Linked DNA regions of Homo sapiens: region 2 is linked to region 1. A link means that fine-mapping ties the variant in region 1 to the expression of a gene that starts in the linked region. Tissue or cell type: whole blood. Region 1 holds a variant in brackets; the other region holds the start of a gene. All regions are shown on one strand. Distances are between the middles of the regions.

Region 1 (8,000 bases):
GAGCCTGGTTTGTTTTCCCAGTTTCATTGATGATATTCCCCAGTTCTATTCTAACAGTCATTTCAACCAACTCTTATTTTTGGTTAACAAATAAAAGGCTAGTTTACAAATCTGGCTCACAGCTTCCAATGGAACTTTTCCACAGCTTTCTGTAGCTGCTTTATCCCTTTAACACACCAAAAGAAAAACAAAATTCTGCATGAAAAGTTTCAAATAAAAATTCTTAAAATCTCTGGTAGAGTTAAAACCTCACAGAAATTAGTACTCCCATTTTTCTCACCGATGTGGCAGACCCTGTATTGGCTTACTCAGAAACTATTCCAACCTCTTCCTTCTGGGCCTTTCTTGCCAGCAGAGGCTACCAAAACCCAAGCTGCTTTGCAATGAGGGTTCCAGACGTGACTTATGCTCCATTTGCTCAAGACTTGAATTTGGAGCTGAGTAAGTCTGGAGCTGGCAGTATGATGCAGCACAGCCTTCTGTGTTGGGCCTAAAGGCTTAGCAATGCCGTTCTTTACCCCTTCTCTCTCATTCCTCAAAGGATTTTGACTGAAAATGTAAATACTAATTTTATACACGGAATGAAGGAATAACTAAGAAAAGAGAAGGTCTAGCAAAAAAAAAAAAAAAAAAAACCTAATCTAGGAAATTTGAATACTATTTCTGATCTTTCATCTATTCTCTAAACAGTCTCTGCGGTACATAGGCAGAGTATAAAACTGAAATGATGAATTATATGTTGATGACTCCTCAATTTATATCTCCAGCCCTAACTTCCTCCTAAGCCCCCTATAGGGGCCAAAGGAACTTCCCCTTTGTCCTCTGAAAGTTCTCTGAAAAAAAATCAACTGACAAAGGCAGATTAATAGGACAAAAAGCATACAAATTCATTAGCATTCACAGGGGAAGATCATAGAGTGATACCCAATATCCCAGTGGGATACAGATGCTTCTATACCCTACTTCTTAGGGAAAATGGAGATAGATGTAGATGATTTTAGGGGGGTAGTAAATGATTTTTAGGGGGATTCAGTGGGCTTGAAGAACATATAATGGCCTGGAACATACTCTGTTGGGCCTATAGAGCAGACAGTGGTTTGTGACAAAAGTCTCTCCAGGTACATTGACAGACTTCAGCCTTTCTTCCTGTAATGTAAGATCCGTTATTGAAAACTCAGAGAAAGAACCACAGGTAATTGTTTTCTTCTTTATTGCGTCCAGACTTTAGGCAGATAAGGGAACTTCAGAGAACAATTTCATTACATTCTTTGGGAGACAATTGAGAGACAGGAGTCAGGGAAGGTCTAAGAGACCTTGAGGCTGCTTCTTCAGTTCAGCATATCAAAGCATCGTATTTTGTGGCATTGGTTTCTGAGCTGCAACACCTCAAATTAACATATCCAAGATTATCCTGTCAAATCCAGGCATGGTGTTATGCACCTGTAATCCCTGCTACTTGGGAGGCTCAGGCAAGAGAATTGCTTGAATCCAGAAGTTCAAGGCCAGCCTGGGCAACATAGTGAGGCCCTGTCTCTCAATAATTTAAAAAAAAAAAAAAGATTATCCTATCATTGTCTAATAGCATCTCAAACTTAACATACCCAAAAAGGAAAAGGAGCTTGATATTTGCTGTCAAACCTGGCTCCAATGTTCTCAAACTCATTGAAACATACATCCTCTGTAACTCCTCTTTTCCTCCCTCTCCTGTGGTCATGTAAATTCAGCAGTGGACCCTGTTGGTTCTCCCTCTGATAGATCCTAGATCTTGCCTTCTCTTTTACTTCTTTAGATAAGCCATTTTCCTCCTAGGCTGTGTCAATTGTCTCCTAACTGATCATCCCTACTCTCCCCTTTCTCTTCCCTTTCCCTGTAATCCATTTTCCACATAGCAGCCAGAGTGAGCTTAAAACTATAAATTAGATATCATTCTGATTTAAACTCTCTAAGAGCTTTCATTGTGCTAAGAATAAAAGCCAAACTTCCTATAGGGCCTGCCTCCCTCCCTAACACTGCCTCTTTCCAGTCTCAGCTGCAGAAACATGGACTGTCTTCCTGTCCTCAAACAGGGCAAGCCTATTCCATCTCAGGGCCTTTGCGCTTGTGTTTCCTTTGCCTGGAGCCCTCTTCCCTCAAATCTTCCCCTGCAGGCTCCTTACCATCCATGTTTTATTTCAAAAATTGATTCATGGGATCCTTCCATGGCCACCCAATTTGAATTAGCACATCTGCCCCACTCCACTTATGATCAAATTACCTCTTATCTTATTCATGACCCTCATCACTACCTAAAATGATGTTATAATTGTTATTCATTATCTCACCTGTTAACAGTGATGTCTTTTTTCTCTCCCAAGATCTTCTCCTTGACAACTCCACAGCACCTCCAGAGAGGTTTGCTCGGTTGGAGTGTTACCAACAAAGTCGTTCCCCCACCAAAAATGGGGTATTTCCCTGTTCGATCCCATGAAGCCAATAGGCAAAACCAAAAGTGAATGTCTAGCAGTGCAGGCTTTATTTGATGGCCATAGGATTGAGAAGCAGAAGCTTGGTTCAAAAATCAAATTCTCAGCCCATGAAAGCCAGGAAGCTGGAAATACAGGGCATCTTTAATGAAGGGGTTGAGCATTAAAAGAAAGGGGAGGAATCTTCATGTCTTTTCTGAGAGTTGGTAGAGAACTCCTAGAAACTGGAGTGCTGCCTGCCTTTTTGTCTTTTTATGGTTGCTTCCAGTCATTCTCATGGTGTTTGTCACCTGTCATGGTGCTGGTTGCAGTGTTACATAGCAGAGAGATCAGACTATAATGAAGTTAGAGGTTCTTCAGAGATCAAGTGGGCTGTCATCTTGGATCCCACCAGTCTTAGCCATTTTGGTCAGGAGAGAGAACTTTTTATCTCAGGCATTTTCTTTCCTAAAGATAAGCAGAGTTAAGGCAGGGTAGAAATGCACCTAGGTCAGGTAGGCATCACACTGGGTAACAAGAGGAATTACCATCTTCTCAAAGAAAGAACTAGAAACCAGTACAGACAGCTAAGAAAGTGGTTTCCCAACTTCTCTACTCATGTCCCTCAAGAAGAAATCTGGAAAATAATGTATCCCTTATCTACTTTTGTTTAACTTGATAAGATCAGAAGACCTGGGAAAATTAAAATATTGACATCATTATATTTGTTCCAACACAATAATATTTGACAAAAAGGTATTACGTGCTTTAAAAAATAATTTTTCTCTAAACCTTGAAGCTGCAAATATAGCTTATTTAGGAAACCATGTGTTATATCGTTTAATTGGCAAAGACAAACTTCATTATTATACTAGTCAGCCCAATCA[C/T]TTACTTTCTGTCAGGAAAATCAGCCTTCATCTTTCAATTTATACTTTTCTGTTTAATACACAGCCCCTTCACAACCCTTTTCCTTCTTAAATTGAATTCTAGGATATGCCAGTAGATAAGATACAAAGCTCTGTCCTGCATTTGTTGCCTAAATGAAATTCATGCCGTGATCTTCAACATTTTTTTACCGATTCTCTCATTCACTCTTAAGGCACTCACCTTCAGGAGCAATGCATTTTGTTGTTAATAGGTGACAGAAAAAGTGAGGTTGTTAGATATAAATTATCAAGTCCCATTCCTCTCAACATGATATATTTGAATATAGACTTTCCCGTCCTATTTTTAATACCATACTTAACCTTACGATCTGATGTGATATATGATACAATGTGATATGATGGCAGAGAAAGACATGAAGTCCTACCTCAGGCTTGCGGTGCCTCATTTAATTATTGCTTTTTTTGATACCCCTGAGAATTTTTCACCCTCAGAGCAAGGCACTACAGTAATATATAGGATAGAGGAAAGTTTTGCCTTTATTCTGAAAAGTATTAGGGGTGTGATTGTGAAGGATGAGGGTAGGATCGTAGAAGTAGAGTAACAAAACCTCACCTATAGGTGCATTCTGAGACACGTGTGTTTTAGGCAAGAGTATGTATGAATGCTAAAGAACTGGAAATTCACTGCCTTGAAAAGATCAGTTTCCTTATTCCCCTCGGAAAGTCTCCACATACCCCAAGGGGTGTGAGTACCACAGCTTAATGACAGCTGGGCCAAGAAGCCTGGTTCCCTTTGGCCCTTGCTGCTGTTAGGGCCATGTGGTATTGCTCCTGACATGTGCAAGCCAACAAGAGTCTGTCCCCTTCTTCACTGCTCATCAATCTGGGAAAATACTACTCCCAAATCCTAAAAGTCCCCACAGTCTGCAATCCCTCTTCAAGTTCCGGTGCACAGAACTGAATGTATATCTAACAGCAAGAACATGCTTGTAAGAGCTCTGCCTGTGCAAAAAGTCTGGAATTTGCCTCTATTCACACAGAACCCAGGACTTCACATGTTAGAGTTACTGTGCTTTTGGGGTTATGCAAGCTCACACACACCCTGCTATTTTACCCAGGGCATCCCTGCAAGCCAAGACAGCCATAATGGCCGGGCATGGTGGCTCACGCCTGTAATCCCAGCACTTTGGGAGGCCGAGGCGGGCGGATCACGAGGTCAGGAGATCGAGACCATCCTGGCTAACATGGTGAAACGCCGTCTCTACTAAAAATACAAAACATTAGCCAGGCGTGGTGGCGGGCGCCTGTAGTCCCAGCTGCTCGGGAGGCTGAGGCAGGAGAATGGCGTGAACCCGGGAGGCGGAGCTTGCAGTGAGCCGAAATGGCGCCACTGCACTCCAGCCTGGGCGACAGAGCGAGACTCTGTCTCAAAAAAAAAAAAAATAAGACAGCAATAATGAAATGAGTTTAGAATGGCAACCATGCGGTCTTTAAGGTACTGCCAACCCCCCTCAATCTGCATTGTGATATGAAGAGTGGAAGATGTCTCTTTTTCTCCATTGCTCAACCAAGTCTTATTTTCTTTCTCAGGATAAGTGTTAATTCTTTCAGTGTAGTAAACCCACGTTGTTATAACAAGCCAGTGTCTATTTTTTTCTATGTGATCTATAGACATCGCTACCTCAGAATCACCTGGGATGCTTATCAGACCTACTGAATTCAAATTTATGGGATGGGGCCTGAGAATCTACATTTTCTACCGGTACTAGGTCATTCTTTCTCTTTGATGAAATTTCATATGTAAATAAGTACATATGAATATATATGCAAGTTTTAACAAATAATTATACAACAAACACCTATATGTCCACCACTCAGCTAAAAATGTGAAACACTGCCAAGGTATTTGAATCCTCCCATGTGTACTTCCTTCTTAATCACATCTCTCTTTCCCTCTCCCCTTCCTTCTGAGGTTACCGGTAGCCTTGTTTTTATTGCTCAGTTGATTTAAAAAAAAAACTACCATATATACTTGTATCCCTAAAATCTTATAGTCACTTCTGAAATCTATAAAAATGTAATTATACATTATGTATTCTTCTGTGACTTGTTTTAATCATCAGTAGGATGGTTGCAAGATTCATCCTTGTTGATATATGATATCTGTGGTTCATCTATTTTCACTGCTATATAGTATTCCATTTTTTGGAGAGGTACAGTTTAGTTTTCTACTGTTGAGAAAAGTTTGGGTTGTTTCTAGTTTAGTTTTGTGATTATGACATAAAGCTGCGATTCCTGTATGACTCTCCTACCTCTTGGTGCTGTGGAAATTCCATTGAGAAACTGGTAGTTGTGAAATGATGTCTCCTGTGGTTTTAATTTGCATCTTCCTGCTTATTAAGGATGATATGCATCTATTCATATTTTTGTTCATTTGCTTCGTGTTAATTTCATGTTGATATATTTTGTACATTTTTTAGGTAATGCATCTTTTTCATATTGATACTAATCTTCTGCTTATATGTTTTAAATATCTCCTCTCTAGGGCTTGCCTTTTGACTTTATGGAATATTTTCATGAAAAGTTCCTCATTTTAATATAATTGAATTAATCTTTATGATTTTTCCATCTTGTTTTATAAATACTACCCTATCCCAGGGTCATAAAGATAATTTATGTTTTCTTCTTAATCTTTTAAGGTTTTGCCTTTCAGTTGAATTCTTAATCCATTTTGACTTGGAGTGTGTGTGTGTGTGTGTGTGTGTGTGTGTGAGATAAAGGCCCAAGTTAATTATTTTCCCACATGGATAAGTAGTTGTTCCAGTTCTATTTATGAAAGAGTTCATCCTTTCCCTGCTGATCTGCCATACTACCCCTGTCATGGATCATGTTTCTCTATACATAAGGATCTGCTTCTGATATATTGGACTACCCTCATGCCAGTTCCACAGTCCTAATTACTATAACTTCATACTAAGTCTTTATATTTGGTAGGACAAGAATTGCTCACCTTCTTCTTCACAAGTGCGTTGCCTGTTTCTTATTCTTTGTTCTTCTATTATGGTTTCGATTCAGTTTGTCCAATTCCACCAAAAAAAGTTGAAATTTTGTTTGGAATTGCATAGAATCTATAGATAAATTTGAGGGTAACTGACATCCTTACAGTATTGTTTTCTAATATGTGAATATGGTGTGTCTCTGTTTACATCCCCTTTAATGTCTTTTAATCAATATTTTTTTTTTTTTTTGAGATGGAGTCATGCTCTGTCGCCCAGGTTGGAGTGCAATGGCATGATCTCAGCTCACTGCAACCTCTGCCTCCCAGGTTCAAGTGATTCTCCTGCCTCAGCCTCCCAAATAGCTGGGATTACAGGCGCCCGCCACCATACCCAGCTAATTCTTGTATTTTTAGTACAGTTGGTGTTTCACCATGTTGGACTGGTCTCAAGCTCCTGACCTCAGGTGATCTGCCCGCCTCGGCCTCCCAAAGTGCTGGGATTACAGGTGTGAGCCACCATGCCCGACCTAATGTCCTTTAATCAAATTTTATAATTTCCTCCCTAAATAACTTGTGTATCTTTTGTTATATGAATTGCTAGGTACCTTACATTTTAGAGAACTGTATATTTGTATGTAATCTCTGTATGTTGCTAATGTATAGAAATTCAAATGATGTAAATTTTAATTATATATTACTTTACCATGCTAATTCTCTCACTAGTTTTATAACTGTTACTTTTTTTTTTAAGTTTGCTATGTGGTTAATTGTATCATCTATGAAAACTGGCAGTTTTGTTCCTTCTTTCCAGTTCCACTAGTTTTTATGTTTTGTTCTTATTTACACTAATTCTATTGAATACAAACGATGGTCATAGCATCCTTTTCTTATTCTTGACTTTGAAGAAAAGTGTTGAGTACTTTGCTGCTGAACATGATGTTTGCAGATTAGAAACAGAATAGACTCTCTCCAGCTTACATGACACTTTGCTCTTTTTTAGCTTATACCTTTGTTACACTCCATACTGCACTTTCAATAATTTTTAAAGCTATACTTTCTGGTTCACTAATCCTTGTCTGGGTACATCTAATCTGCTATTTAACCTGTCCATCAAGTTTCTAGTTTTATTTGTTACTTAATTTAATTCTAGAAATTTAGTCTGGTCATTTTATAGTTCCTTGATTATTAGTAATATTTTGGATCCCCTCCTTCATTTCCTAAGAATATTACATGATATATTTATACTCCACCTCAGGGTGTTTGTTAGCTATGGCCCACAGGCCAAGGCCAGCCCAACCAAATCCAATCCAACCTGTTTTTCAAACAATGTTTTACTGAAACCCAGCCAAAGCTGTCTGTTTAATTTTATCTTGGTAGGTTCACTCTGTAATGGCAGAATTTAGTAGTAGTGATGGCAGCGGCAGGCTATCTGGAGCATCCGCTGCCATCATGCCGGCTGCAGCAGAAAGACATGAGTGGTGGCAGCAGGAGCAGCTGCACAAGCAGCAGTGGCAGCGGTGGGTCCCCTGTACCCCATGTCCCTGAGGCAGCCAACTGCATGACCCGCACCCTTGCATGGCTGGGCAGGACGTGCTCCCAGGCCCAGAGCCTCTGTCGCTGCCTCAACCTCACTCCCTGCCGCATCCCAGGAGTCCATGAGCACCCTGCTGAAGG
Region 2 (8,132 bases), 980 kb after region 1:
ATCAGCACAGCTAATGTCAGAGGCCCAGCTTATTCTTTTCATCTGGACTACTAAAAACAAGAACTATTATCTACCCCACAAAAATCCTGTGAAAGTTAATTAGGTAGTTAAGTTAATCTTCATTAGGCAAGATCATGGAATTTGGGAGGAAAAGAGGAAGGAAGCCTGCAGATCTTGCATAAGCAGGAGAGGCTTTCTACACTCCTCCGGTCTTATAAGAAACAGTATGTCCTATTTTTGACCTAACAATTTTTTTTCTTTGTAGGTATCCATGCCTTCTAAGTGCTAGTAATAAAGAATTAATTCACATATTAAACTTGACATGGTTAATTTCATTGCCCCTTTATGTTAGCTTTCTTTCTGAACTTTGAGTGCATCTACAAACTTATTAAATGATCTAGACAAGCCAGAAAAAGGCTTCTCATTTCTTCAGTGGGGTGGGAAGTGATTATTTTGTCATAGTATGGTTCAGAATGACATATTCAAATACAATTTTAAAAATCTACTTCACTATGTATATGTATCATCAATAAGAAAAATTTGGCCTGGTGTTGTTAAGATATAAAAGTACCTGACAGTGTTAGAATTGCAGACTGTTGTCATCTCATGTGCTACAAAGCTTTAATTCAATTATTTGGATTCTGTATGAGAAAAACTTTCACTGCAGGTGTAACATTTTCGTCACAGCATAAAATAATCTCCACTTAAAGGAGATACCCAATTTCTCTACTTATAAAGCATTCAACTGTTAATAAAAAATCAGTGCCAAAACCAATCTGTGTAGTTACCACCAAACTTGTTAGAATAAACAACTTTTCTTGCATGAATTCTCTGAGAAAAACTTTATTGAAAAATACCCCCTCCGGCCGGGCACGGTAGCTTGCGCCTGTAATCCCAGCACTTTGGGAGGCCGAGGCGGGCGGATCACCTGAGGTCAGGAGTTCAAGACCTGCCTGACCAACATGGAGAAACCCCGTCTCTACTAAAAATACAAAATTAGCTGGGCGTGGTGGCTCATGCCTGTAATCCCAGCTACTCGGCAGGCTGAGGCAAGAGAATGGTTTGAACCTGGGAGGCGGAGGTTGGGGTGAGCCAAGATGACGCCATTGCACTCCAGCCTGGGCAACAAGAGTGAAACTCTGTCTCAAAAAAAAAAAAAAAAAAAGAAAGAAAAATATCCCAAGATAGGAAAAATCACTTCTCTTGTAATTAAGGTCCATTATGGAGGATTTCTCTTTCAAATATTTATTTTCAAGAAAATTGTAGCAATTAGGTGCACATCAAAACTAATACCCTTTATGGGCCTCTATTTTGCAGATGGTTCATTTCAAAGCATCAAGTTCTACATACATACATACACACACACACACACACACACACACACACACACACACAACCTAATCAGGCGGTTTCCTGGGCAGCTACAGAAGACTCAAATGATCTCATGGACTTCACTAATGTTTCTAGTTGGTGCCAAATGTTTCAGAAATTTTGAGGTAGTCCACTTACCTAAGGTGATACTAAACTTCCAGAAAGCAAGAATTTCCGTAATAAGTGAAAGAGGATGAATGTACAAAAATAATACTAGCTTTCAATTAACATATGAATATTGTTCTGTATGAAGAGGCAGTTTCCTACCCAAGTGAAAAAAGAATAAAGCTGTTGCCTCCTTAACATTAAACATCCCTTCATCACTAAGAGGAGACTCTAAGGCCTAGCAAAAGATTTGAGCCTAACATTTTGGGTTTTTTTTTTTTTTTTGAGACGGAGTCTTGCTCTGTCGCCCAGGCTGGAGTGCAGTGGCGTGATCTCGGCTCACTGCAAGCTCCGCCTCCCGGGTTCACGCCATTCTCCTGCCTCGGCCTCCCAAGTAGCTGGGACTACAGGCGCCCGCCACTACGCCCGGCTAATTTTTTTGTATTTTTAGTAGAGACGGGGTTTCACCATGTTAGCCAGGATGGTCTCGATCTCCTGACTTCGTGATGCATCCGCCTCAGCGTCCCAAAGTGCTGGGACTACAGGCGTGAGCCACCGCGCCCGGCCGGGATTTTTTGGTAAGCAGCAGCGTAAAAATCACTCTCAAGGTTTGAGATTGGGATCCAGCATAACTGGTGACTTGACCTTGGGCAAGTCACTTAATTCCTTTTAGTCTCAGTTTCCCTGATTGTAAATGAAGTCAACACCACCTGGTAAAGGTATTACAGGACTGGTGTGAGGATGAGATGATACATGTGAACATATTATTAAATATGTAAACTATAAGGCAATAGTAAGCAAATGCTAGTTACTATTCTATGTAATACAGGCCTAACCTTTCCTGCCTATGTCCTGATCTGTAAAAAGAAGACAGGTTGAGATCTGAATGTCTATCCACTCACTTATCAGCTGCGTGAACTTTAGCAAGTCATTTCCTTTCTGGGCCTGTTTCCTAAGAAGGTTATTTTTTAAGATCAAATGATATCGTGTTATGCAAATGCTGTCCAGACACATATTAAGAACTTAACACATGATGGCTCTTATTATTCTCTGGGGAGTAGGGTGGTAAAGAGCAAATGAAATTAAACCTAGTTAAGAGAATTTGTATATGCACACAAAACTCTACAGACATCCAAGGTACCGTTATTTGCACTGTAAACTGCCAAAACATGCAGGAAACGAGAAATCAAATGGCGCCTCAGTGATTCGCACTAGAGAGGGGGAGAAGGCAGAGCTTCCGAGAATCAACTGTTTTCCCCCTTATGGCCTCCAGCCTAGATTAGACCATTTATTCAACTTCCCAGCCCCCAATATCCCTGGACATTTATTTACTGTACCTTTTTCACTGAGAGCCTTTCCACTCCCCTCCCCTTCTAGTAGTCGTGAACTTCAGACCCTCGCTTCGACTCCCACTGCCATAACTGTTTTTAACCAAGCTTCCCTGAATCCTCCCCTCCGCCTAAGGAGGAAGTGCAGCTAGACGCACCGCACGGCATCCTAGGAAATGTGGTCTCTCAGACTCTTTGCCTTGGGCTGCAGAGTGGGGAAGACGACGAAGGAGAGCCCAGTAAAACTACAACTACCGGCAGGCAACGCGAGTCACCATCTTTCTTTCGCCCCTTTTCCTGTTGCCGTCCTCTTCCTCCTCTCCTCTAGCGCTGAACCGCTTGGCCTCACGGTACTTGTAGTTCCTTCTGGACTCAAGATCCTAGGGCTTGATGGCCAGCACAGAGGCTGGAAGACTCTAATTCCCAGAGGGCAGAGCGGAAGCTGCGCCTGCGCACACTCAATGAGGGCGTGTATGTCTGTGTCTGAGGGAGAGAGAGCGAGAGTGAGTGAGTGTGAGTGCGGGGTGGGGTGGTGGCCGTTACGTTCGGGGCAACGGCTACGGCAGTGGAGAAGTAAGAAGAGAAACAACGTCCGGCGCTTCCGCCTTCGCTTAGGAGGAGGAAGAGCTGGTAGGGAAAGGAAAGTGCTTCGCCCTGGGCCTGGACTGGACCGAGTCGGGTTGGTGGGGGTCTGGGCTATGAGCTTTTGAGGGTCGCCTGGGACGCGGAGCGAGACACGAGAGCCAGGAGCTATGTCTCAGCCGCCGCCGCCGCCGCCTCCGTTGCCGCCGCCACCTCCTCCCCCTGAGGCTCCACAGACTCCGTCGTCCTTGGCGTCGGCGGCTGCTTCGGGGGGGCTTTTGAAGCGGAGAGACCGGAGAATCCTTTCCGGGAGCTGCCCGGATCCGAAGTGTCAGGCGCGTCTATTTTTCCCGGCCTCCGGTTCTGTCAGCATCGAGTGTACCGAGTGCGGCCAGCGGCACGAGCAGCAACAGCTGCTGGGGGTTGAGGAGGTGACCGACCCGGACGTAGTGCTACACAACCTGCTGCGGAACGCGCTGCTCGGGGTTACGGGGGCACCCAAGAAGAACACGGAACTGGTAAAGGTGATGGGCCTTTCCAACTATCACTGCAAATTGTTGTCGCCCATATTAGCTCGCTATGGAATGGACAAACAGACAGGCCGGGCCAAGCTTCTCCGGGACATGAACCAGGGCGAACTGTTCGATTGCGCCTTACTGGGTGACCGCGCCTTCCTCATAGAACCAGAGCATGTTAACACTGTGGGCTATGGCAAGGACCGCTCCGGAAGCCTCCTGTATTTGCATGACACTCTGGAGGACATTAAGCGGGCCAATAAAAGCCAGGAATGTCTCATTCCAGTGCATGTGGACGGGGATGGACACTGCTTGGTGCATGCTGTGTCTCGGGCTCTAGTAGGCCGAGAGCTCTTCTGGCATGCCTTAAGAGAGAATCTTAAACAGCACTTTCAGCAGCACCTGGCCCGATATCAAGCTCTGTTCCATGACTTCATTGATGCTGCTGAGTGGGAGGACATTATCAATGAGTGTGACCCTCTGTTTGTACCACCTGAGGGTGTTCCCTTGGGCCTGAGGAATATCCACATATTTGGTCTTGCCAATGTGCTACATCGTCCTATTATTCTGTTAGATTCCCTCAGTGGCATGAGAAGCTCTGGTGATTATTCAGCCACCTTTCTACCTGGGCTCATCCCTGCAGAGAAGTGCACTGGGAAAGATGGTCATTTGAACAAACCAATCTGTATTGCATGGAGCAGCTCCGGTAGAAACCATTATATCCCCTTGGTAGGCATAAAAGGGGCTGCTTTGCCCAAACTGCCTATGAATTTGCTTCCTAAAGCATGGGGTGTGCCTCAGGACCTTATTAAAAAGTACATAAAACTTGAAGAGGATGGTGGTTGTGTTATTGGAGGTGACAGAAGTTTGCAAGATAAATACTTACTTAGGCTTGTTGCTGCTATGGAAGAAGTCTTTATGGACAAACATGGTATCCATCCTAGTTTGGTTGCTGATGTCCATCAGTATTTCTACAGAAGGACTGGAGTGATAGGAGTTCAGCCTGAGGAAGTCACAGCAGCTGCTAAAAAAGCAGTAATGGATAATCGCCTTCACAAATGTTTGCTCTGTGGTGCCCTTTCTGAACTTCATGTTCCTCCAGAGTGGTTGGCTCCTGGAGGGAAATTGTATAACCTGGCAAAAAGTACTCATGGACAGCTGAGGACTGACAAAAATTACAGCTTTCCCTTGAACAATTTGGTTTGCTCATATGATTCAGTGAAAGATGTTCTGGTACCAGACTATGGAATGAGTAACCTAACAGCTTGTAATTGGTGCCATGGCACATCTGTGCGAAAGGTCAGAGGAGATGGGTCTATTGTGTATTTGGATGGAGACAGAACTAATTCTAGGTCCACTGGTGGCAAATGTGGTTGTGGATTCAAACACTTTTGGGATGGTAAGGAGTATGACAATCTACCAGAAGCTTTCCCTATTACTTTAGAATGGGGTGGAAGAGTGGTCAGAGAAACAGTATATTGGTTCCAGTATGAAAGTGATTCATCTTTGAATAGTAATGTTTACGATGTTGCAATGAAACTTGTTACCAAGCACTTTCCAGGTGAATTTGGGAGTGAAATCCTAGTTCAGAAAGTTGTCCACACTATATTGCATCAGACTGCCAAAAAGAATCCCGATGATTATACTCCTGTAAATATAGATGGTGCTCACGCCCAAAGAGTTGGAGATGTTCAAGGACAAGAATCAGAGTCTCAGCTCCCAACTAAAATTATTCTTACTGGACAGAAAACAAAAACTTTGCACAAGGAGGAGTTAAACATGAGTAAAACTGAAAGAACTATTCAACAGAATATTACGGAACAGGCTTCTGTAATGCAGAAACGGAAAACAGAGAAGTTAAAACAAGAACAAAAAGGGCAACCCAGGACTGTTTCTCCCAGTACCATTCGTGATGGTCCATCCTCTGCACCTGCTACACCTACCAAGGCTCCCTATTCACCGACAACTTCTAAGGAGAAGAAGATCCGAATCACAACTAATGATGGACGACAGTCCATGGTTACCCTTAAGTCTTCAACAACCTTTTTTGAACTTCAGGAAAGTATAGCCAGAGAATTCAACATTCCTCCATATTTACAGTGTATTCGATACGGGTTTCCTCCTAAAGAGTTAATGCCACCACAGGCAGGAATGGAAAAGGAACCAGTTCCTTTACAGCATGGCGACAGAATTACAATAGAAATTCTAAAAAGTAAAGCTGAAGGTGGTCAGTCTGCTGCAGCACACTCAGCCCACACTGTGAAACAAGAAGATATTGCTGTTACTGGTAAACTGTCATCTAAGGAACTTCAGGAGCAAGCTGAAAAAGAAATGTACTCCTTGTGTCTTTTAGCAACATTAATGGGTAAGATGAATTTAATTCTGATGGTATATCTTAATTGTAAATATAATACACTGAGTTTTCCTGTTATCTTTGGGGGAAAAGAAATCTGTAGCCATTGTAAGTTTTTAATTATATATTTCAGGAGAGAATTATTTTTAGTATTTTGAACAGTTGATAGATGTTAATAGGATTATTGAGTAACTATTAGGAAAATAGAAAGTTAAGGTAGTCCCTCAATAATAGTCAACAGATTATTTAAATATATCTTATTCTTGCAATTGCTTTTTAAAAAACAGACTTGTATTTATTTAAAGCGTTTTAAATTTTTTGGTAGGCTCTATTGATCCTGCCTACCTTGCCCCTTTTTCATTTATTTTTAATTTTTATTTTCCTGTATGTCATGTGATTTCAGCACTTCCTGTTTGATGAATTGCAGTTTCTGGTGTTTATATTCTCACTGCACTCCCACCTAGTAGTCTCTTACATTTCATTTTCTTCCTTTCCCAGTTCATCACATTTTTCTTTCTCATACACTAGGATTTGTATGTAAGTACACTAGGATTTGTATTTAAGTAATTTCACTACTCAAGTCTTTGCCATCAATTATAATGAACTGTTATAAGTTGTAGTTCATGAGAAACATAAACAGAGATGGATGGTAATGGTGTAAAGAAGTATTTGTTTTTAATCAGCATAAATTAAAGAAAAATATATTAACCAAATGTGTAATTTAAAGCTTTAGATGATTTGGGATACTGTTCAATGGTGTACTTTTTACAGTGTCTATATTTGCTTAGTCTTTGTTTTGAAATAACTTAGTATGCTTTACTAAGTCTTAAAGTATGAAGTAAAATTTAAATGTGTTAGTTACTGGAAGGGTTTTATTTTTGCTGAGATTAAAGCTTTCAACGAGAAAAGTCATCTGGGTTTTGATTCTGTTTTCTGATAGTACTATATGGCAGTGATTTGGGCCTTAATCTATCAAAATGAATACTACTCCTGGCTTATCTGGGGGAGTAGTAAATAGGGGATCTAAAAACCCTGCACAAATTTAGAACCCGGAATTGTTGATTTTAGTTTGCCAGACATAGTAATTGAATTGGGGAGTATGTCAGGAACTGTCCTACGCACTTTATATATTTCTTTTTTTTTTTTCTTTTTTTTTTGAGATGGAGTCTTGCTCTGTCTCCAGGCTGGAGTGCAGTGGCGCCATCTCGGCTCACTGCAAACTCCACCTCCCGGGTTCAAGCAATTCTCCTGCCTCAGCCTCCCAAGTAGCTGGGACTACAGGCCCACGCCTCCATGCCCAGCTAATTTTTGTATTTTTAGTAGAGACGGGGTTTCAACTTGTTGACCAGGATGGTCCTGATCTCCTGACCTTGTGATCAAGGTCACTTAAATACGAATGCTAGTGTACTTAAATACAAATCCTAGGTGGCCTGTGACTGTAATCCCAGATACTCTGGAGGCTGAGGCAGGAGAATCGCTTCAACCCCGGAGTTGGAGGTTGCGGTGAGCCTAGATCGCGCCACGGCACTCCAGCCTGGCGACAGAGCGAGACTCTGTCTCAAAAAATAAATAAATAAATGAATAAGTAAATAAATAAAAGACCTTCAATCTCCCAGGTCAAAAACAGGAAAGAGAAGATCTTCCTCAATAGAAGATGGACTCTTGAGAATGTGGCTCTTACCTTTATCCTTGTATGCACAGAACCTGATAATAGTGCTCAGCAGGTAGTATGCACTCTGAAATGTTTTTTAATTGAATTAAATAGATGACATTAACACAGCTAAAGAAAGGCTGTATCTGCAGAAATGGAATGGATGGTCAGTCAGCACTGAACATTGAAAAAAGTGAAAAGCAGAATTCGGCAATGTTCATATACTG

What was found. PIP is the estimated chance that this variant, and not a neighbour inherited with it, causes the effect.
Region 2: VCPIP1 starts here. The variant in region 1 is fine-mapped to the expression of VCPIP1 in whole blood (TOPMed, PIP above 0.99).

The regions. Positions count from the first base shown.
Region 1 is chr8:67,640,894-67,648,893 of GRCh38, reverse strand. All of the region lies in intron 1 of CPA6 (carboxypeptidase A6), which reads left to right. Among named protein-coding and RNA genes, the nearest start is that of CPA6, 100 kb to the left of the region's middle. The variant C/T (reference allele first, on the strand shown) is at 3,329.
Region 2 is chr8:66,662,383-66,670,514 of GRCh38, reverse strand. VCPIP1 (valosin containing protein interacting protein 1) reads left to right here and starts at 3,284. Exons shown (of 3, transcript NM_025054.5): 1 at 3,284-6,266. The coding sequence starts at 3,557. C8orf44-SGK3 (C8orf44-SGK3 readthrough) reads right to left here and starts at 2,919. Exons shown (of 19, transcript NM_001204173.2): 1 at 2,814-2,919. C8orf44 (chromosome 8 putative open reading frame 44) reads right to left here and starts at 2,919. Exons shown (of 2, transcript NR_161217.1): 1 at 2,814-2,919. RefSeq lists enhancers at 2,687-3,196, 3,567-4,086, 4,337-4,396.